Linked DNA regions of Homo sapiens. The protein of the gene in region 1 interacts with the protein of each later gene in a biochemical or structural test. Each region holds a gene or a part of one and is shown in the gene's direction. Other genes may lie near its edges.

Evidence for each region.
Region 2: the proteins of CENATAC (region 1) and NAT10 form a complex in vitro, tested with the Homo sapiens proteins (one study listed by BioGRID).
Region 3: the proteins of CENATAC (region 1) and SASS6 form a complex in vitro, tested with the Homo sapiens proteins (one study listed by BioGRID).

What each region holds. Positions count from the first base shown.
Region 1 is NC_000011.10:119,008,130-119,015,150, forward strand, and holds part of CENATAC (centrosomal AT-AC splicing factor), read left to right. Parts: intron 1-2,634; coding exon 2,635-2,701; intron 2,702-3,091; coding exon 3,092-3,154; exon of another isoform or gene 3,155-3,182; intron 3,183-3,809; coding exon 3,810-3,874; intron 3,875-4,019; coding exon 4,020-4,125; intron 4,126-5,102; coding exon 5,103-5,133; intron 5,134-6,864; coding exon 6,865-6,954; intron 6,955-7,021. UniProt on the Homo sapiens protein: Component of the minor spliceosome that promotes splicing of a specific, rare minor intron subtype. Negative regulator of centrosome duplication.
Region 2 is NC_000011.10:34,129,621-34,136,641, forward strand, and holds part of NAT10 (RNA cytidine acetyltransferase), read left to right. Parts: intron 1-1,192; coding exon 1,193-1,317; intron 1,318-1,760; coding exon 1,761-1,911; intron 1,912-2,504; coding exon 2,505-2,601; intron 2,602-3,405; coding exon 3,406-3,522; intron 3,523-4,698; coding exon 4,699-4,800; intron 4,801-4,891; coding exon 4,892-4,966; intron 4,967-5,554; coding exon 5,555-5,671; intron 5,672-7,021. UniProt on the Homo sapiens protein: RNA cytidine acetyltransferase that catalyzes the formation of N(4)-acetylcytidine (ac4C) modification on mRNAs, 18S rRNA and tRNAs.
Region 3 is NC_000001.11:100,129,918-100,137,703, reverse strand, and holds the start of SASS6 (spindle assembly abnormal protein 6 homolog), read left to right. Parts: upstream 1-4,773; 5' UTR 4,774-4,889; coding exon 4,890-4,954; intron 4,955-7,786. Other genes in the region: TRMT13 (tRNA:m(4)X modification enzyme TRM13 homolog), read right to left, coding at 619-685, 776-822, 4,389-4,535.

The sequences.
Region 1 (7,021 bases):
GTGGGTATTTCTAGTCGGGTGGGATGAGAGACGGAGAAAAGAAATAAGACACAGAGACAAAGTATAAAGAAACAACGGTGGGTCCAGGGGACTGGTGCTCAGCACACCAAGGACCTGCACCGGCACCGGCCTCTGAGTTCCCTCAGTTTTTATTGATTATTATTTTTCATTATTTCAGCAAAAAGGAATGTAGTAGGACAGCAGGGTGATAATAAGGAGAAGGTCAACAAATTACATGTGAGCAAAAGAATGTATATCACGATTAAGTTCAAGGGAAAGTACTATGCCTGGACGTGCACGTAGGCCAGACTTATGTTTCTCTCCACCCAAACATCTCAGTGGAGTAAAGACTACAAGGCAGTATCACTGTAAACATGTCTCGCCTCCCGCCACAGGGCAGCTTTTCTCCCATCTCAGAGTTGAACAAATGTACAATCGGGTTTTAAGCCGAGACATTCAGTTCCCAGGGGCAAGCAGGAGATAGTGGCCTTCCTCCATCTCACCTGCAAGAGGCTTTCCTCTTTTACTAATCCACCTCAGCACAGACCCTTTACAGGTGTCGGGCTGGGAGACAGTCAGGTCTTTCTCATCCCACGAGGCCATATTTCAGACTATCACATGGAGAGAAACCTTGGACAATACCCCGCTTTCAAGGGCAGAGGTCCCTGCGGCTTTCCACAGTGCATTGTGCCCCTGGTTTATTGAGACTAGAGAATGGCAATGACCTTTACCAGATGTACTGCTTGTAAGTATTTTGTTAACAAGGCACGTCCTACACAGCCCTAGGTCCCTTAAACCTTGATTTTATACAACACATGTTTTTGTGAGCTCCAAGTTGGGTCAAAGTGGCTGGGTCAAAGTGGCTGGGACAAAGCTACAAATCAACAACATCTCAGCAAAGCAACTGTTTAAAGTACAGGTCTTTTTCAAAATGGAGTCTCTTATGTCTTTCCTTCCTACATAGACACAGTGACAGTCTGATCTTTCTTTCTTTTCCCTACAACTTATTATTATTTTTGAGACAGAGTCTTGCTCTGTCACTGGCCTGGAGTGCAGTGGCCCGATCTCGGCTCACTGCAACCTCCACCTCCGAGGTTCAAGCAATTCTCGTCTCAGCCTCCCAAGTAGCTGGGATTACAGGCACCTGCCACCACATCTGGCTAATTTTTTGTGTTTTTGTAGAGACAGGGTTTCACTATGTTGGCCAGGCTGGTCTTGAACTCCTGGCCTCTTGATCCACCCGTCTCGGCCTCCCAAAGTGCTGGGATTACAGGCGTGGGCCACACCGCGCCTGGCTTAAATGATTTTTTAAAACTAAGTGGCTTAATATTCTGCAATTTTAATCTGAGAGGGGTGGAACAGAAAGCCCCATACCTCATCAGAACCTGGGAGTTGATGAGAAACCATTTGATGACAACCTCCTAGGGGAGATGGGGAGGGAAGTGGGAGATGGCCTCATAGCAGCTTCTGGCAGACCTTCCACCCTCGTGTTCCAGGAGGATTAAACAAGCCTTTCAGCCACAATTCGGTAAGGTGTGGCTCAAGCCATTGTCTCCTTGGATATATTCAAGGCTCTCAGGGAACACTGTTGATAGTGGTATTGGTATTATACTGAAACTTTGTGTTGAGAACCAGGGTTTTGAGAACCAGGGTTTTCACTATGGCAAAAGGAAGATACAAGTAAGGAATGGAGGCATTTGAATAGGGAGGTGACAGTACAAATTACTGATTTAAGGCCAGGCATAGTGGCTGATGCCTGTAATCCCAGTTCTTTGGGAGGCCAAGGCAGGAGAATTGCTTGAGCCCAGGAGTTCGAGACCAGCATGGGTGACATGGCAAAACCCTGTTTCTACAAAAAACACAAAAATTAGCCAGGCATAGTGGTGCTGTCCTGTAGTCCTACCTACTCAGGAAGCTAAGGCAGGAGGATCTCTTGAGCCTGGGAGCCTCTTGAGCAGAGGTTGCAGCGAGCTGAGGTTGTGCCACTGCACTCCAGCCTAGGCAACAGAGCGAGCCCGTCTCAAAAAAAAGACAAAGAAATTTAGGACAGTATGCAAGATTTGGCCTGGATTCTTCTGAGGATGTGAAGTAATGGAAACAGTAAGACTGTTCCAGACTAGGGGAAGACTAGAGACCTAATAGCTGGATTCCATGTGATCTTTTGTTGGACTTTGGGATTGGAGGTGAGAGTAGAGAAGGCATAATGCACGTTTTTGAGACGAGGGAAATGTGAATATAGCCTGTATGCCTACACTCAAGTCTGAAGACATGTAAACCATGTCTATACTAACCAGCCAAATATTTGAACACTAAAAGGAAGAATTTTCTTAATGTGGTAATGGTATCATGGTTGTATAGAATGTTCCTCCTCTTGGGAGATGTGTGTTGAAAATAGGGTTTGACGTCTAAACCTATTTTGTTTTGGCAAAAAGGACGTGTGTCTGTACAAAAGAAGTGGAGCCAGTATGGCAAAATGTTTACAAGGACTCTGGGTGAGAGGTACATAGGTGCTTACTATACTGTTTTGTTTCTGAATTTGGAATTTCTCAAAATTAAAAAAATATCTACTGAGGAGCTTTTCGTTTTAACTGGTGGGGAATGGGTTCTGGGTGGTTTTGCCCCTTTTCTTTTTAGATTCAAGAAATCCATGGTGAAAGGTTTGGATTCCTATGAAGAAAAGGAGGATAAAGTGATCAAGGAGGTAAGTTAAAGTAGCAGTCCCTCACCCTTTTTGCACCAGGGGCTGGTTTCGTGGAAGACGGTTTTTCCACAGATGGACCCAGGCAGGGGATGGTTTCAGAATGAGACTGCTCCACCTCAGATCATCAGGCACTAGATTCTCATAAGGAGCACGCAACCTAGATACCTTGCATGCCCAGTTCACAATAGTGTTTGTGCTCCTATGAGAATGTAACACCACCACTGATCTGACAGGAGCTCAGGCGGCAGTGCTGTTGCAGCCTGCTTCCTGACAGGCCACAGACCAGTACTGGTCCACGCCTGGGGGTGGAGGGCCCAAGTTAAAGGAAAGGCCTCTGAAGAAACTGGCCCCCATGATCCTGTACCTGTCTAAGCAGCCTCTCTCCCACAGATGGCAGCTCAGATCCGTGAGGTGGAGCAGAGCCGACAGGAGGTGGTTCGGTCTGTCTTAGAGGTTGGTTTCCCTCGGAGGATCCAGACCAGTATCCAAATCCACTGATCCCTGGCATTCCCAGGTCCAGCATTTCATGGACTAGTGCTTCTTCTTCTTCTTTTTTTTTTGGAGACAGAGTTTCGCTGTGTCACCCAGGCTGGAGTGCAGTGGCACGATCTCGGCTCACTGCAACCTCCACCTCCCAGGTTCAGGTTCAAGCGATTCTCCTGCCTCAGGCTCCCGAGTAGCTGGGATTACAGGTGCCGCCACCACGCCTGGCTAATTTTTATATTTTTAATAGAGGTGGTGTTTCACCATGTTGGCCAGGCTGGTCTTGAACTCCTGACCTCAGGTGATCCACCCGCCTCAGCCTGCTGGAATTACAAGCATGAGCCACTGTGCCCGGCCATGAACCAGTGCTTCTAAGAGAACTCTGACTGCATTCTCATCTGCTTGGCTTGAATTCCCTTACCTGTGTGCCAGGGGGCAGGCCTAGTCAGTGAATATGTGGACAGGACTGGGAGGGAGGGAGGGAAGAGTCTGTAAAAGATGGGCAGTACCTTCCATATGCTAATTTGTTTCCTTCCTGTGATACTGGGGTCTGGAGGGTGGAGGCATGGCCTAGGCAGGCTCTTAAGCATCCCAGACACATTTATTTTTCCTGAATCAAACTCAGCCTCAGGCAGTGCCAGACCCAGAAGAGGGCTCTTCAGCACCTAGAAGCTGGAAAGGGATGAACAGGTAAGACTATTAGGGAATCTCTTGTTGGGAATTTGACATCTTAGAACATTCTGCAACCTTTTGCCTGGGAAATGGAAACAGATCTAATCTTTACCACCCTCATGGCTCAAGGACCTCATCTGGCAGCCTGGCTCATGTTTTTCAGCCAAGTAGCTTCCAGCTTACAGCAGCCCTCAAATTTGGACCTGCCACCAGCTCCAGAGCTTGACTGGATGGAGACAGGACCATCTCTGACATTCATTGGCCATCAGGTACAAAGGATAAGCAAGCCAGAAGAGGGCCAATGGTCCCTCAGGTCTCAGGACCCCTTTCTCCTGATTTTCTACCTATTCAAGCCACTGCTGCCTCCACTGCAGGCTTTTCCTTCTTCCTTCACTGTTCCCTAGTAGTGTTCTCAGACCTCTTCTCACCCTCCAAAGCGATCCTATTCACATGTATTGACACTTAGGAGTGCCAACTCCTAAATCTTGCCCTCTGTAGAACTCATAGTTCCAACTCAACACAGGACATTAAATATCCCACAGGCATCTGAAACTAACCCCCACCACTCCTATATTTCCAATCACTAGATGCAGATCCTTTCCTTTTCCATCTCCCATATCCTGTCAACAAGCGGTCAATTTTAACCTGTCTGCCTCCATTCAGCCTTTGGGCAATTTCTACTCCCCCTTCAATCCTGCCTCACAAACAGAAAATCATTGTACCACTTATGATTTTACTCTACACTTCAGCTGTATTGTGTTGCTTCGGGCTTTTGCAGTTGCCATTGTCTAAAACCTGCTTTCCTTCCCTCATCACCTAGTTTACCTTCAACTGTTAGCTCAAATGTCACTTTTTCATAAAAGGCTTATCTGAACAGGTTATCTCTATTTCAAGTGGATGTAGCACCATGTAAAGTTGCAAATGTAATTTACGTAACTTGTGCTTAATGCTCTTCCCCAATTATATGTATGCTGTGAGGGCAAGGTTTTGCTCCCCTGGCATGTAATAGCCACTCTACTTACAGACATCTCCACTGTTATGACTGTGAGCTTCCTGAGGACAGGGTTGTCTTAGAGTGACTTACTGTGCTTTCAAAGTTTAACATCAGCTGGGGTGCAGAATTAGCATTGTGGCAGCAGTCACACCCACCTCTTTTAAAGTGTGCTTTGTCTATCGTTTCTAGGATTTTTTTTTTTAATCATGCCTAGACTTTAACTAGCACTTTTTTTCCCATTTCCAACTACAGGATATACCAGGAGTTGGTAACATCCACTCAGGTAAGGTCCAGGGCAGTGTTTTTAAAACCCTGGGAGATTTTTTTTTTTTTTTGAGATGGAGTCTTGTTCTGTCGCCAGGCTGGAGTGCAGTGGCGCAATCTCAGCTCGCTGCAACCTCTGCCTCTCAGGTTCAAGTGATTCTTCTGCCTCAGCCTCCCAAGTAGCTGGGGTTACAGGTGTGCACCACCACACCCAGCTAATTTTTTTTTTTTTTTTTTTGAGACGGAGTCTCGCTCTGTCGCCCAGGCTGGAGTGCAGTGGCGGGATCTCGGCTCACTGCAAGCTCCGCCTCCCGGGTTCACGCCATTCTCCTGCCTCAGCCTCCCAAGTAGCTGGGACTACAGGCGCCCGCCACTACGCCCAGCTAATTTTTTGTATTTTCAGTAGAGACGGGGTTTCACCGTTTTAGCCGGGATGGTCTCGATCTCCTGACCTCGTGATCCACCCGCCTCGGCCTCCCAAAGTGCTGGGATTACAGGCATGAGCCACCGTGCCCGGACTTTTTTTTTTTTTTTAAATAAAGTTGGCCAAGATAAAGCGTATGTATCGGTAAAAGCCTTATATCCAGAATATATGAAGAACTGTCAACTTGATAAGGAAACAACCCAATAAAAGCATATGAATAATGTTCAACATTAGTCATTAGAGAAATGCAAATTAAAACCACAGTGAAATACCACTACATATGTATTGGAATGGCAGAAATTAAAGACTGATCATGCCAAGTGTTTGGCAGTGTAGAAAAACCAAACCTTCATACACTGCTCTTAGAATGTAAACTGGTACAGTCACTTTGGAAAACAGTTTGGGATACACCTACCACATTATCCAACCGTTCCACCCCTAACTAGAGAAAAGAAAGCCTGTCTACATAGACTTGTACACAAATCTTCAGAACAGCTTCACTTGTAGCAGCTCCAAATTGGAAACAATTCAGATGTCTATCAACAGGCAAATGGATTAACAATGGAATAGTATTCCAGGATGAAGACAGAATTATTGATACGTACGACACAGATGAATCTCAGAAGTCCAGACCTGGCCGGCGTGGTGGCTCATGCCTGTAATCCCGACACTTTGGGAGGCCAAGGCAGGCGGATCACGAGGTCAGGAGTTCAAGACCAGTTTGGCCAACATGGTGAAACCCCATCTCTACTAAAAATTCAAAAATTAGCTGGGCATCGCAGCGCACGCCTGTAATCCCAGCTACTTGGGAGGCTGAGGCAGAATTGTTTGAACCGAGACCTGGGAGGCGGAGGTTGCAGTGAGCTGAGATTGTGTCCAGCCTGGGCTAGAGCGAGACTCCTCTCAAAAAAACAAAAGGCCAGACCCCACCTCAATGTCCACACACAGAAAATCCTAAAAAATACAAACCAATAAAGCAACTGAAAGATCACCGATTGCCTGGACATGAAAATATTTTAATGGGGGCAGTGATACTTACAGGGGGATGTTTGGGGTCTAGATTGTAATGGCTTCGCTCAAAAGTCACCAAATTTAAGTGTGTATCGTTTATGTCAGTTGTGCCTCAAAGCCATTTTAAAATGACTGTCACATATGGGGTATGTCGCTTTAAATTAGCCTAGGGCCTTCTAAAGCTCCAGAATTCCTGGGCTTTGCTTTTAGACATTTCTAGCTCTTAATGAGGAGAGGTAAGCTAACAGCTAGGACATGTTTCACAATAGCCTGAAGACTTAAAAAAAAAAAAAAAAGCCTTAATTTTTTTTTCAGGTGCCACACCTCCCTGGATGATCCAAGATGAAGAATACATTGCTGGGAACCAAGAAATAGGACCATCCTATGAAGAATTTCTTAAAGAAAGTAAGTAAACTAATTCAAGAGAGGATCGTCTAAATCTTCACACTCAAAAATGGTTTCCTTGCCTGTG
Region 2 (7,021 bases), about 85 Mb from region 1:
TTTTTGAGACAGACTCTGACTCTGTCGCCAAGGCTGGAGTGCAGTGGTGTAATCTTGGCTCACTGCAACCTTCACCTCCCAGGTTCAACCCATTTCTCCTGCCTCAGCCTCTTGAGTAGCTGGGATTACAGGTGTGTACCACCATGCCTGGCTAACTTTTGTATTTTTAGTGGAGACGGGGTTTCACCATGTTTGTCAGGCTGGTCTCAAACTCCTGACCTCAGGTGATCTACCCGCCTCGGCCTCCCAAAGTGCTGGGATTATAGGTATGAGCCACCATGCCCGGCCACTTTCTTTATAATAATGTCTTTTAACGACAAAAGTTTTGAAGTTTTGTTGCTTGTGCTTACTCTTTTTTCTTAAATAAATAAATAGGATACTTTTGGGAGAGCTTTGTTATGTGGTGTGGAGAGTGGGCATAAAACATCTAGCTTTTATCATTATTTGAGTAAGAGGAAGTATTTTACAGTCTTTGAATATAATAATGAGTACTATGAAATGATGTAATGAAAAGTGCTGTGTGTACCCTGTGGTGACATATGCCTGTGACTAAAGACAAGGAGAAGAAAACTCAACAATGAAAGCTGATTGAGTTATCAGATTATAGGTGATTTAATTTTTTTCTCAACATTTTTTAGCTATTTTATGTCACCTTATAAGTGGGCATAGCAATGAAAAGAATTACTGAGGTGGTGGATTTGTTTTATTTTCCAAACTGGAAATGTTCTCAGTTCATTTCCTTATGCACCGTACTTCTAAAAGCAGCTCCGTTAGTTGACCATTTAACTTTGTTCCAGCTTCACTAAAACTGCCTAAAGCCTTTATGCTAAAGGCTTTACTTACATCCTTTTTCCAGTCCTTATTTTTTAAGTTCACATCACAGTCCTGTGAGGTGTATAGAATAATCCCCTCTTGAAGATGAGGCGAAAAGAGATTCAGCTCCTTGCCCAAAGATACTAAGTAGATGAGCCAGGACGTGAGCCCAGGCCTGGGTGGCCCCAAGCTCAGCCACCGTGCCACCCTGCCTCCTTTGGACAGGTGCCTGCTATGCTGGAAGTTCAGAGATGAGCAAGGCTGTCCTGGGGGAAGCAGGGGTCTGGTGTTTCAGCAGGTGGAGGAAAGCAGCTCTCTGTCCCCTCCTAGACAGTGGATTTGGGACCTTGTGCCTGATTCCTTTTGCCTTTGTTTCTAGCTATGAGGGCACTGGCCGGTCACTGTCCCTCAAGCTAATTCAGCAGCTCCGTCAACAGAGCGCCCAGAGCCAGGTCAGCACCACTGCTGAGAATAAGACCACGACGACAGCCAGATTGGCATCAGGTACCCCAGAACCTGACCCGGGTCCCGCGGTTCACAGCAAGGCCCTTCAGTCTTACTGATCCTCGCTTCCCCTGTGACATCATGGGAAGCACCAAACCTTCCCACCATCAGGCTGAGAGGTTGAGTCCCCAAGAGGAGAAGTAGCTTTTTTCGGAGGAACAGCAGTCCAGTGACCAGATGGGAGCCAGACTAGGGCCTTCTGATGGTGGGGCCCTTGTGTGTCCTTGTCTCAGGGCATGGTTGCATTGAGATCCCTTTGGGGTTGGTATCGTGGCAAGTTGAATATCCACCAAAAACAATTTTAAACCACCCAGTTTAAATTCTTACCACACGTCTCTGGCCACCATGGGACAAATATAAAGTGAAACATTTTTCCTTGCTTTTTTAGACAATACATATTTAATCATTGTTTCTTCTTTTGTGTGTGTGATTGTGGGGAGCAGCGCGGACACTGTATGAGGTTTCCCTCCAGGAGTCAATCCGATACGCCCCTGGGGATGCAGTGGAGAAGTGGCTGAATGACTTGCTGTGCCTGGATTGCCTCAACATCACTCGGATAGTCTCAGGCTGCCCCTTGCCTGAAGCTTGTGAACTGTATCCTCCTCTGGGTTTCACTGGCCCTGTGAAAAGGAGAGGGGCGGTGAAAGAATTCAAAGGACTTGAGTCCTTTGTTTCATAGGATGCTGCTCTAGAGAAAGGGGAAAGTTGAACATTTTCAATTTCCTTTTTCTCTTCCTTTTTTTTTTTTCTTTCTTTTTTTTTTTTTTGAGATGGAGTCTCGCTCTGTCACCAGGCTAGAGTGCAGTGGCACAATCTCAGCTCACTGCAACCTCTGCCTCCCGGGTTCAAGTGATTCTCCTGCCTCAGCCTCTTGAGTAGCTGGGATTACAGGTGCCAGCCACCACGTCTGGCTAATTTTTGTATTTTTAGTAGAGACAGGGTTTCACCATGTTGGTCAGGCTGGTCTCAAACTCCTGACCTTGTGATCTGCCTGCCTCAGCCTCCCAAAGTGCTGGGATTACCGGTGTGAGCCAACGCGCCTGGCCCTCTTCTTCCTTCTTTTATGTGTTTCTGCTTAGGACACTGAGCTCCTGTTCCCAGCTACGGAAATTTGTTCTGCCTCCAGAGAGTAGTATGACCTGTCTTCGGCTATTTGTTTTGTTTTGGTTTCTTAACTCCAGACCCAGGTACTATGTTAATAGAGATACCCTCTTTTGCTACCACAAGGCCTCTGAAGTTTTCCTCCAACGGCTTATGGCCCTCTACGTGGCTTCTCACTACAAGGTAACTGCAGCTAGCCCTTGTGTGAATGGTAGCAGGGAGCTTCAGCATTTGGCAGTCCCCTTTTACTTGATTTGCATATTTTATTACCCAATGGCTTAGGTGACTGTTCCATTGGGACATTGATGAGTTCCACTGATCTTGCTGTGTGTAGGTATAGAGCATGTAGCTCCATGCAGTAACGGGACAGGGTGGAAAGCTGTGTCCATTTTTAAAGGAGTGCTTTCATTTCTTGCCTGCCTACTAAACTGATAGGATGAGGTGACATTGCAGTTGTGGCCCGGTGGTGCAGTTTGACCTGAGACCAGCTTTATAGCTCTGGGCTACTTTTATGGAACAGTGAATTTGAGGGTTTAGAATATCTGAGACTCTTAAAAACAAAAGGGTTGGTTAAAAAGGATACTTTTTGAATGTCTAGATAGTATTTTTATGAACAGCTTTTAATGGAAGGCTTGAAGAGTTGGTGTTAGAAGTGGTGACAGTTTTTCCTGAAATAGCAGCCTCTTATCTGTAAAAAGTTCACTTCCTAGCTGTGAAATAAGTAGTGCTAAATAAATTCTCTTCTTCTGTCCAGCCTCAGTGCTCGGGGTGAGAGGACAGTAGGCATTTGAGGCTAAGTTCCACTTAACCTGTTATGAAGAGTCTCAGGCTTGCCAAAATACTAGAAAGGTGCTTTGCTGGACTTCTGCTCCTCACTTGGCTTTGGAGAAGGCCATACTGCAGTCATCCTGTGGTTCTGAATCGAACCTTTTGCGTAAAGGGCAAGAGGAAGAGTGCTTCTCACTGACCCGTGTTTGGCTTCCACAGAACTCTCCCAATGATCTCCAGATGCTCTCCGATGCACCTGCTCACCATCTCTTCTGCCTTCTGCCTCCCGTGCCCCCCACCCAGAATGCCCTTCCAGAAGTGCTTGCTGTTATCCAGGTATAGGAGCAGAGGCGTCCTTGTGGCAGTGATTTGGGGAACCACTGAGGCATCAGGAATTAGTGGCTTAATAACTGCATTGTGGGAGTTTTGAAACTGTGGAGTCCTGGTCTGGAACCAAGGGGCTGGGTCTGCTGAGACAGGTGACTAGGGTGCACTGGAAGAGGTTAGCGCCACTAGACACCCAAAGCTCCACTGTTGACGGACGGGGAAAAGCCAGAACCGACCGCTCTCTTATTTTGACTCACAGCTTCTTCCACAAACAGACTTGTTTGTTTTCTCCCTTTATTACAAAAGCAATACATGGTGCATTTTGAATTAGAGGCTACAGATTGGGGAACAAATTTTTAATGCCTAGCATGGATGTATTTATGCATTTCTATATCACTTTTCCTTTTCATATACATAGTAATCTGCTTTTATTTTTAGGCAGTGTATAAAACACTCATAATCTACATAAGTTTTAAAGCTGTGTAGTATTTCATTATATACATGTACCATGATTTGTTCAACCATTCACCTGTTAGACATTTTAGTTATTTTGAACTTGTGCTGTTCTGTACAGAGCCTCATGAGCATCCTGTGTCTTGATGGCCTTCACACACGCACAGCATACATAGAGACTCTCTTCTAATGTGGCTTTTACTTTTTGGGTCAGGAGGCTGTCAGTCTTCTGCCCTGTAACATGGGGCCTGGTAATTAAGCTCCTGTTAAGAATGGATGTGTCAGGCCAGGCGCCATGGCTCACGCCTGTAATCCCAGCACTTTGGGAGGCCGAGGCGGGCGGATCACAAGGTCAGAAGATCAAGACCATCCTGGCTAACACGGTGAAACCCCTTCTCTACTAAAAAAAAAAAAAAAAATACAAAAAATAAGCCGGGTGTGGTGGTAGGCACCTGTAGTCCCAGCTACTCGGGAGGCTGAGGCAGGAAAATGGCATGAACCCAGGAGGCAGAGCTTGCAGTGAGCCGAGATAGCACCACTGCACTCCAGCCTGGGCGACAGAGTGAGACTCCATCTCAAAAGAGCGGGGGGAATGGATGTGTCAGTGTCAGGGTTAAACCTGAACATGGGGGTGGAAACAACTGGCCTAGTTCGAGAAACAAGCTATATTCTGTGAGTGGGCTCTGTATCAGAGTTGGCCTTTCTGCCTGCACTGTCCTGCTTCCCCCACAGGTGTGCCTTGAAGGGGAGATTTCTCGCCAGTCCATCTTGAACAGTCTGTCTCGAGGCAAGAAGGCTTCAGGGGACCTGATTCCATGGACAGTGTCAGAACAGGTGACGGGCTTTCCCTGGTGTGTCTGAGGGAAGCTGGTGGTGTCCAAAGATGTCTGTGTTGCTAAGTTACTGGTTTGTGTCTCCCACACAGTTCCAAGATCCAGACTTTGGTGGTCTGTCTGGTGGAAGGGTCGTTCGCATTGCTGTTCACCCAGATTATCAAGGGGTAATGTGTCCTCAGGCTCCCCTGAAGCCGTGTTGCTGGCGGTGCTTTAGGGTGGGGGTACTTGGTGGCTGGAATAAGAAGCTGGTCAAGCAGAAGCAAGTGAAGTGTAGGCACTTCCCTGCTCTGGAGAATTGAGCCAGGGTTCGGGGTGGGTGGGTGGACAGGATGATGGCATATGCTCACTCTTCCTTTGTGAGAACGAGGACTTGTGAACCAGACCTGCATAACAAAATTACCTTCTTAGAACACCTCACTGAGTAATTGGCTGTAGAAACTTCCTTTTCAGGCAATGGTACAGAAACTGCCTCTCATTTGGGCTTGCCCATCTGGAGACCAGAAAGCACAGCCATCCTTACCCTCAAGTGGCTGTTCTTGATGAGCTAGACCAGTGTTAAGAACTCGGGTCACACTACTTTCAGTCTTAAGTGTCTCTGCTTTGACCTCACTCAGGGTTTTCATTGGTTCTCTTGCCCCGTGCTGTTTGACAGGGAGGGAAGGTTCTCTAGAAGCAATGCAGGGGAGTCACTGTGGCTTAGACTGAGAGCAGCTCTCTTCCCTCGGCCTCTTCCCCTTCACGTTTGCTCCTAGATGGGCTATGGCAGCCGTGCTCTGCAGCTGCTGCAGATGTACTATGAAGGCAGGTTTCCTTGTCTGGAGGAAAAGGTCCTTGAGACACCACAGGAAATTCACACCGTAAGCAGCGAGGTAAGCATCTTTCGACAGACCTCCTGTGTCCTGGTTCTTGGGAGGATAATTCTCTGGGTTTTTAGGGGCATCAACAAAAACCAGTCCAGAGCTTTGGACCCCTCTCTCATTTTCTTCTGCTGCTTTCTCCTACCGAACACTTTAGATCCTCAGATCAGTATCATTGGGATCATCTGGCAGCTTGTTAAAAATGTAAATTCTTGAGCCCCACTCCAGACCTACTGAATCAGAAACTCTGGGGTAGACCCTGTAATCTGTAGTTTAACAAGATTCTCAGGTGATTCTGATGCTCATTCAAGTTTGAGAATCACTGCTCTATAATCTCTTTCATCCTACACCAGACTAAGGGAAGTTCTGTCATTCCTTGATAAGAATGACTAATACTAGTAACTGTGACAGCCTTTCATGTGCATTCATTGATTTTCATAGTATGTATATTTGAGAGCTAGACAAGGGGCTTTTATTTAAGTTGAGGCAGCTGGGCAACATGGCGAAACTCCATCTCTACAAAAAATACAAAAATTAGCCGAGCATGGTGGTGCACGCCTGTAGTCCCAGCTACTTGGGATGCTGAGGTGGGAAGATTGCTTGAACCCCAAGGTTGAGGCTGCAGTGAGCTGTGATCTCGCCACTGGACTCTGGCCTGGGTGACAGAGCCAGACCCTGTCTCAAGCAATGAAAAAAAAAGTTCAAGCTCAGAGGTTTGTCACTTCCTAAGGCTGTCAGGTGATAGAACCTGGACTTCATGCTGGATCACAGGAGCCTGCCTGTCCCTTTGTAAATCTGTTGGGCATTTTTTTTTTTTTTTGAGATGGAGTCTTGCTCTGTCTCCCAGGCTGGAGTGTAATGGCGTGATCTCAGCTCACTGCAACCTCTGCCTCCCAGGTTCAAGCAATTTTCCTGCCTCAGCCACCTGAGTAGCTGGGACTACAAGCACACACCACCGTGCCTAGCTAATTTTTGTATTTCCAGTAGCGATGGGGTTTTGCCATGTTGGCTAGGCTGGTCTCAAACTCCTGACCTCAGGTGATCCACCCGCCTCAGTCTCCCAAAGTGCTGGGATTACAGGCATGAGCCACCACTCCCGGCCTCTGTCAGTCGTTTCTAAACTCTTTGGCTGTCTTCCTGCATTCTAGAGGTCTGAAGCAGTGTGATTCTATGCATGTTGAGGTGTTTTGAGAATGATTGCTTGACTCCGGTGTTCTCATAGTTTGAAAACCACAGCAATAAACCAAGAAACCTCTCCCAGTTTTTGTTGTGCTAAGTCCAGAGTGCGCTGCGGCAGGGTGCTTGACGATGTCTCTCTCCCTCTGCTGAATGGACTGTGTTCTCTCCTTGGCATCTTCCCAG
Region 3 (7,786 bases), on another chromosome or scaffold:
AGAAGCAAAGGCACTGATTATCTTTTTTCCCAGACTACCTTTTCAAGGGAGCTTGTATACCAAGCACCCTTGGAAGACAGAAATGGTGTCACCTCCTGGATCGCATGGCAGCCCTTATTGTACAGTGTAATAAATAAATGTCTACTTATGGAACAAAAGTCAGGCAGGTTTGCCTACTACCCAATTTAAAAATATTTGTATTTCCTGGCTGGATTTGGTGGCTCACGCCTATAATCCTAGCACTTTGGGAGGCTGAGGCAGGAGTACTGCTTGACACCAGCAGTTCGAGACCAGCCTGGGCAACACAGCGAGAACCCCGTCTCTATAAAAAAATAAAAAAATAAGCCAGGTGTGGTGTCGTTTGCCTACAGTCCCAGCTAGTCATGAGGCTGAGGTGAGAGGATTGCTTGAGTCCAGGAGTTCAAGGCTGCAGTGAGCTACGATCACGCCACTGCACTCCAGCCTGAGTGACAGAGTGAGACCCTATCTCTTTAAAAAAAAATTATATTTCCTGAGCTTGGGTTCCTCAGCTATGAAACAAGTACATTCCATGTGCAGCATCTACCAAGGCATTACATACCACATTTCACCATTCAATTTTACTGATCAAACACTTACAGGTTTTGGTTTCTCTCTTGAGTTACATTTTTTCAAATGCTTTGCTAGTTGATCTTCATATACTGTGCTAAATTTAAAGAGAAAATTATTTCAAATGAGACTTGTGCCAATTACTGTTTCCAGCACAAAAAAAAACCCGTATCTGATCCACACTTACTGTTTTGGATCTAAAGGACACAGGATTCTTTTCCGAGCATCTTCTTCCTAATAAATTAAGAGATACATTTATTTAAATAAAATATCAAGTTTATTGCTTACAGATACCAGATATAACTTCAGTGTCTCTGTAATCTCAAAACAAGGTAAGGAAACCTTACAAGGACATAATGAAAAGTTGGCAAAATCAGGTCCCAAGGGTTTAACAAAAACTCTCCAGTGTACTGGCTTAAATACATATGAACAAATACTGCTTTGGACAAACAAGGGTCTATAGCTTCAAACAGGGTATAGAGAAGGCCTACATATGGTGTCTGAAATCTAAGATAGCATCAACTATTATATGTATGACTATTTTATGCACAACCAAGAAAGAAAAAAATGCTGCCTATTTCATGTTAATTGACAAATAGTTGTATATATTTATCACATATTAGGTTTGTACAAAAGTAATTGTGATTTTTATGGCAATAAAAATAATATACACTATTATTTATGTATGGTTTTAATACAACATAATGTTTTCAAATATGTATACATTGTGGAATGGCTAAATCAAGCTAATTAACATGTATTGCCTCACATACTAATCATTTTTTGGAAAATGCTGCCCATTGACATATGGATTTTAAGATGTATCCTGATTTTAGAATGTTAAAATGTAAAAATAAAGTTTCTTAGAAACAATGGAACATGGCATTTTAACCATTTGGATGTGCCATATTTTACTGGCTTTGCAACTTTTTACTATCAGTTACATCCTACTCATTCCTAAGTTACATCACTTAATGACTGGGAATACATTCTGAGAAATATATCTTTAGGTGATTTTGTCATTGGGAGAACATCATACAGTATAGTAACACAAACCTAGATAGTATAGCCTACTGTACATCTAGCCTATATAGTATAGCCTATTGCTACTAGGCTGTAAACCTGTACAGCATGTTACCATACTAAATACTGTAGGCAATTGTAACACAATGTAAGTATTTGTGTATCTAAACATATCTAAACATAGAAAAGGTACAGTAAAAATACAGTATTATAACCTTATGGGACCACCATCATATATGCGGTCTGTTGTTGACTGAAATGTCATTATGTGGCACATGACTATATGAACTGGGAAAAAAGAAAGGAAAATTGATAATGTTGGCAATTCTACCCAATATTCCACATGAATCTGTATAAATAGGGGTCATATAACAGTTAAGAACACAGGCCAGCCAGACTGCCTAGGTATGATACCCAGCTCTACCTACCAGCTACGATCCCTATGACCTTAGTTAGGTAGGCTTACTGCCTCATCTGAAAGATGAGAACAAAAATATGTCTTACCTTCTAAGGTTTGAACACATTAAGTGAGCTAATAGTTAACAAAACAAAACTGCCTAGCCCAGTGCTGTACATAGAGTAAGTGGTGACTAAGTGTCTGCTATTATTATTCTTTTAAAAATTTATTTCTGTTCGAATGTGCCTCTCAGCATGTCCATGAAGCTATTCACACTGAATTTCATGGGAAAGCTAAGAAATTTTTTTTTTGAAAATACTATATATTCAATAGAAGAAAAAGAAAATACTGTATATAATTTCTTCCTTATTGCTGACTTTAAATCCTAACCTCCATGTAAAAGACTATTCTAACCCCCAGAGCCTAACTGTAGCATAGGAAAAAAAAAGCACATTTAAAATTTATTAGTTGAATTTAGAAACAGGAATTCTCAATCTTGGCACTATTGACGTTTTGGGCAGGTAATTCTTTTGAGGGGGTGAGTGCAGGGGGCTGTCCTGTGATTTGTAGGAGGTTTAGCAGCATTTCTGGTCTCTATCCATTAGATGTCAGTGATACTCCTCAGTTTGACAACCAAAATGTCTTCATTTTGCCAAGTGTTCACTGGAGGCAAAATCAGTCCCAGTCGAGAACCACTGGGTAAAAATGAGTGGTGTCATCACAGCTATATATGACACTTAGAAAAAAAGATGGAAACACAACATCCAGTTACATCATAAATTACAGATTCAGGAGGATAGCCACAATTTAAAACGAGATAGTAGTCAATAAAAGTGTTTCCACTTGATGTTTTGCGGTCTCTCTTCAAGTGTCTAATGACAATATGTCGTTCCTCTATAGGAATACTAATCAGCTTGTAAGGATTTATTCATATTCTACTATCATCACTATTTGTTTTCACCTTCCATATATCTGGATAAGGTGGAGTCTAAATCCTTCTCCTATCATAACTCTCATTCTTCAACAAGGGATGTTTGCCAGTCCCCTCAAAACCAGTCAATAGACTATGGGCATAATTCAGAGTTCCCACAACAAATCACGTCTCCCATATTCCAAAACAAGAATGTCCTTGTTTCAGTATGCTTCACTTTTGGTAAATGCCAGTCAAAACAAAATAGGAAGTAGACTACAACTATGATGGAGAGTGGCAGATGAAGGGGGTCAGGGGACTGATCTGCACTGGATATTGTCTAGAAGAATAAATTCCTTAAGAAATAAAATAATGCAAATAATACTGAACATTCAGAAGCATGAAATCTGATGCTGATCGCTTTGGTTTATTCTTTATAGTTCTGTGGAACTATAAGGACATGCTCTCTTCCTATGAGCATTTTGCTCCTCTGGTTTTTATTTTCCCATCTCATATATATCCTAAAGTAATATACATATATACAAATATAAAGTGTTTGATAGTACATTTATATGCATAATTATCAAACAAAATTGTATGCTTTGTTCTCAATTGTAAAAGGTCAATTCGTATATATTTAAAAATCTTTCCTTCCCATTCCAGCAAAGTTGCATTCTTAAAAACTGTAAGTCGAAAAAAATTTTTTTTTCTTTTTTGAGATTCAGTCTGGCTGTCACCCAGGCTGGAATGCAGTGGTGTGATCTTGGATTATTGCCACCTCCACCTCCTGGGTTCAAGCGATTCTCCTGCCTCAGCCTCCCGAGTAGCTGGGGTTACAGGCTCGCACCACCACGATTTTCTTAATTTTAGTAGCTCGCGCCACGGCTGATTTTCTTATTTTTAGTAGAGAGAGGGTTTCATCATGTTGGCCAGGCTGGTCTCGAGCTCCTGACCTCAAGTGATCCGCCCGCCTCGGCCTCCCAAAGTGCTGGGATTACAGGCGTGAGCCACCGCGCCGGGCCTCAAGTCTAAATTTTTAAAAGAAAGTTTCTTCCAACCGCATTCACGAGAAGTGCTTCTCTTTCATGAAATAACAATTAGAACACAACTAGTGAAACCTTTGGGACTTCAATCACTACTTTTTCTAAACTACCACTTTCCAGCAGGAAGACGGAGCGGTAGCTTGGGGTAAAAATTAAAACCTAGCATTACCATGAGTTAAGATCGAGATAAATAGATCAAAATAAATGGGTCACTGCTGGCGCTTTACTTAGAAAAATAAAAAATTTCTCATCACTAGAACTCATAATCGCTCCGCAAGGAGGGCAAAACTGGGTTTATTAAAGTGAAAGCTGGAGAATCCAGGGGACACAAGCAGAAAGCTGTCAAAGAGGGGAGGGGCCGGGTTCCAGCACCGACAGGACCAGGATACTTATTTCCGACTCTTGAGAGAGTAGGGCGATACCACACCTCCGCGGCTCCAGCGTGTTCACCACAAAATCTTTTCCCTGCGGCCACCACCATCCTGCAGAACCGTTTCTTCTTTTCCACATAGTAACCGCATCTACCCTCAGCTGGAAAACCAGGCGCGTGCGGCGACGTCGCGGAGGTCGCCATAATTCTAGGGCTCGCTTCCGGTGTCCAGCATCCGGCAACCAGAAGAAAAGTTAGAAGCTTCCTTCGGGTCTCCTTCCCTTAACAAACATGGCTGCCTCAGCCCCCGCGCCACACAGGTTAATACCCGGAACTACCACAACCGTCTTCCCTTTATCCTCCGCAGAACCGGAAGAATCCGATGGTGGCTGGCGAGGGCCAAGTCTCTTACGCCTTCCCCTCGTTTCTCCCTCCCCGCCTCCTCCGCAGAAGCCGAGCGCCAAACTCAAACTTTATCAGGACCCGGACCTCTCAGGCTAATCCCGAGGGCCGGGCCTGTTGGGCTTTTCTGCACACCAGCCGAGGCAGCGAGCCAACATGAGCCAAGTGCTGTTCCACCAACTAGTCCCGTTGCAGGTGAAATGCAAAGACTGTGAGGAGAGGTAAGGTCCGCGTCATCCAGTGCCCGCGGGTGGCGGTTGGGGTCAGGCCAATGGGGAAAGATGGCGGTTCTGGCCCGTGGGATCCACCTTGCACCTAGGTGTCGAGTCGGCCCCCCTAGGAAGCGGATAGGGAACCCAGAGGGCCCGGTGGTTACCTCTCTCACCAAGTCGGCCGTTGCAGAGGGGACTGGAGGAAGGGTGTGAGGAGTTAGGAAGCCGGCTCACATCAAGTTAATGTCAAAAACCCTACCTGTGCACGGAATCGTGAAGATTATAGCCCTACTCTTCCCTTTTGACAGATAAGAACTCTGGCCCAGAGAAGTTAAAAAAATTTACGTGAGGGCTCACAGCCAGTTCATGGCAGGGTCAGGACTAGAACTCAGGCCTTGGCTCCGAGCCTTTCCCCCTCGTTCTCTTTTGAAGTATGTTGGCAGTAAAGTTCAACTTTTAAAAACCTACCAATTTGGTGGCGTACTTTGGCTCTTCACATCAGTTGCTTTAAAAAAGTAAATTACATTTAACCGACTAAAAATGAGAAAAGCAGAAACGTCATTAATTCATTCAATAAATATTGCCTCCTTGTAAAACACCTTACTGGGCACTGGGAATACAGTGGTCAGGAAAAACAGTCCTTTTCTTCATGGAGTTTACAATCACTGGAGGAAATAAAGACCAGTCGCACAGAGAAGTGCAACTTTGATTAAGGAGGTGGTATTATTGGGGCGTAAATAGATTTGACCAGAGGTCAGGAGACTTACTTTTTTTTTCTCAGTTCTAACACTCAATGGTTGTCTCTTTTTTTCTCTGAACGTTCTTTCCTCATTTGTAAAACTGATATAACATGCGTATTCACGTGTTTGTAATGAGGATCAGGTGTGAAATCTTTTGCGTATTCACGTGTTTGTAATGAGGATCAGGTGTGAAATCGTATGTGAAAACTAAGTGGTGTACAAATGTAACATAAAAAATGAAGACATTGCCTTATTGAGTTGCCAGTAATGTCAAACTGTAGTATATATAGTTCAGAATTCGGTCAAAAATCAATGGCAAGCCGGTCAAGGAGATGGTCCCAAAACCAGCAGCTGCATATGGAGATCTGTAGGTTTAGTTGATCATTCTTTTAATGCTGTCCAGTATGGTAGCCACTAGCCACATGTGGTTATTAGACATTTGAAATGGGGCTTATCTGAATTGTTGTGCTTTACATATGAAAATGCACGTTGGATTTTTAAGACTTACTATGAAAAAAGAATGTAAAATATGTCAATTTTTATATTATGTGTTAAATGGCAATATTTTTGGGTATATTGGGTTAAATACAATGTATTATTAAAATTAATTTCACCTGCTTTTAAAAGTCTTTTTAAAATGTGACTTCTAGAAAATTTAAAAGTAGGCTAGGTATGGTGGCTCACACCCGTAGTCCCAGCACTTTAGGAGGCCAAGACAGGAGGATTGCTTGAGCCTAAGCTTGAGGTTACAGTGAGCTACTATTTGTGCCACTGTACTCCAGCCTGGGTGATAGAGCGAGATCCTGTCTCTGAAAAAAAAAAAAGAAAAAGAAAAAAATTAAAATTACATACCTGGCTCACATTTGTGGCTTACATTGTATCTCCATTGGACAACACTGTTTTAGAATGATTATAGAAAGATAAAGGAGGCCATGACTTTGGTTTCAATATGGAAACTCCTAGATGGTCTCTTTCTGGTTACATTGCCATCACAGTTAATCTAAAAACTCAATTTCTCTGCTTAGAAACCTTTAATATATTCCTATTATCTGTATAATAGGGGTCAGCAAACTGGAGCACATGGGCCAGTTGGCTCACTGTTTTCGTAAATAAACTTTTCTTGGAATACAGCCATGCTCATTTGTTTACATATTGTAGCTGCTTTTGCACAGGAAGGGCAGAGATGAGTAATTGTGACAGAGACCTTATGGCCCGCAAAGCCTAAAATATTTGCTATCTGGCCCTTTACAGAATAATTTGGTGATCCTTGACCTATAGGAAGAACAACCCAGACTCTCTCTCTTTCTCTCTCTCTTTTTTTTTTTTTTTCTAGACAGAGTCTCGCTCTGTTGCCCAGACTGGAGTATTGTAGCACGATTACAGCTCACTGCAGCCTTGACCTCCTGGGCCCAAGGGTTCCCCTCACCTTAGCCTCCTGAGTAGCTGCAATTACAGGCGCATACCACCACGCCTGGCTTTTTTTTGTTGTTAATTTAATTTAAAAGAGACGGGGTCTCCCTGTATTGCCCAGGCTGGTCTTGAACACCTGGGCTCAAGTGATCCTCTCACCCCAGCCTCCCAAAATTCGGGGATTATAGGCGTGAGCCACCACGCCCAGCCCAGACGCCTTGGTTGAGTATTTGAGGCCAGTTCAGCTCAACAAATACTGGCAAATGTCTGCTGTGTCTCAGGAACTGTCCTAAGTGTGGAGGATGTAAATACGCACCCCCCTCTCCGTCCCCAACAACAACAAAAGCCAACAAAAACCTCTTTTCATTCTGTCCCTCAAGGAACTCACATTTTAATAGGGGAAATAAGATTTTCCTTGAACAGGCACCATAGCACAGATTAGGAGTTCAGGCTCTGGAGCCAGATTGCCTGGGTTTAAGTCCCAGTTCTTCCACTTACTGACAGATCTTGTACAATTTCCTTCTCTGTGTCTCATCTTTAAGTTGATGGTAATAACAGTACCTACTTCATGGTATTATGAGAATGGAATGAATTATACATATGAACTGCTTACAACAGTGACTAGAGCATAATAAATGTTCACTAAATTTTAGGTATTAATGTGTGACAAATGCATAAAGTAATATAAGTA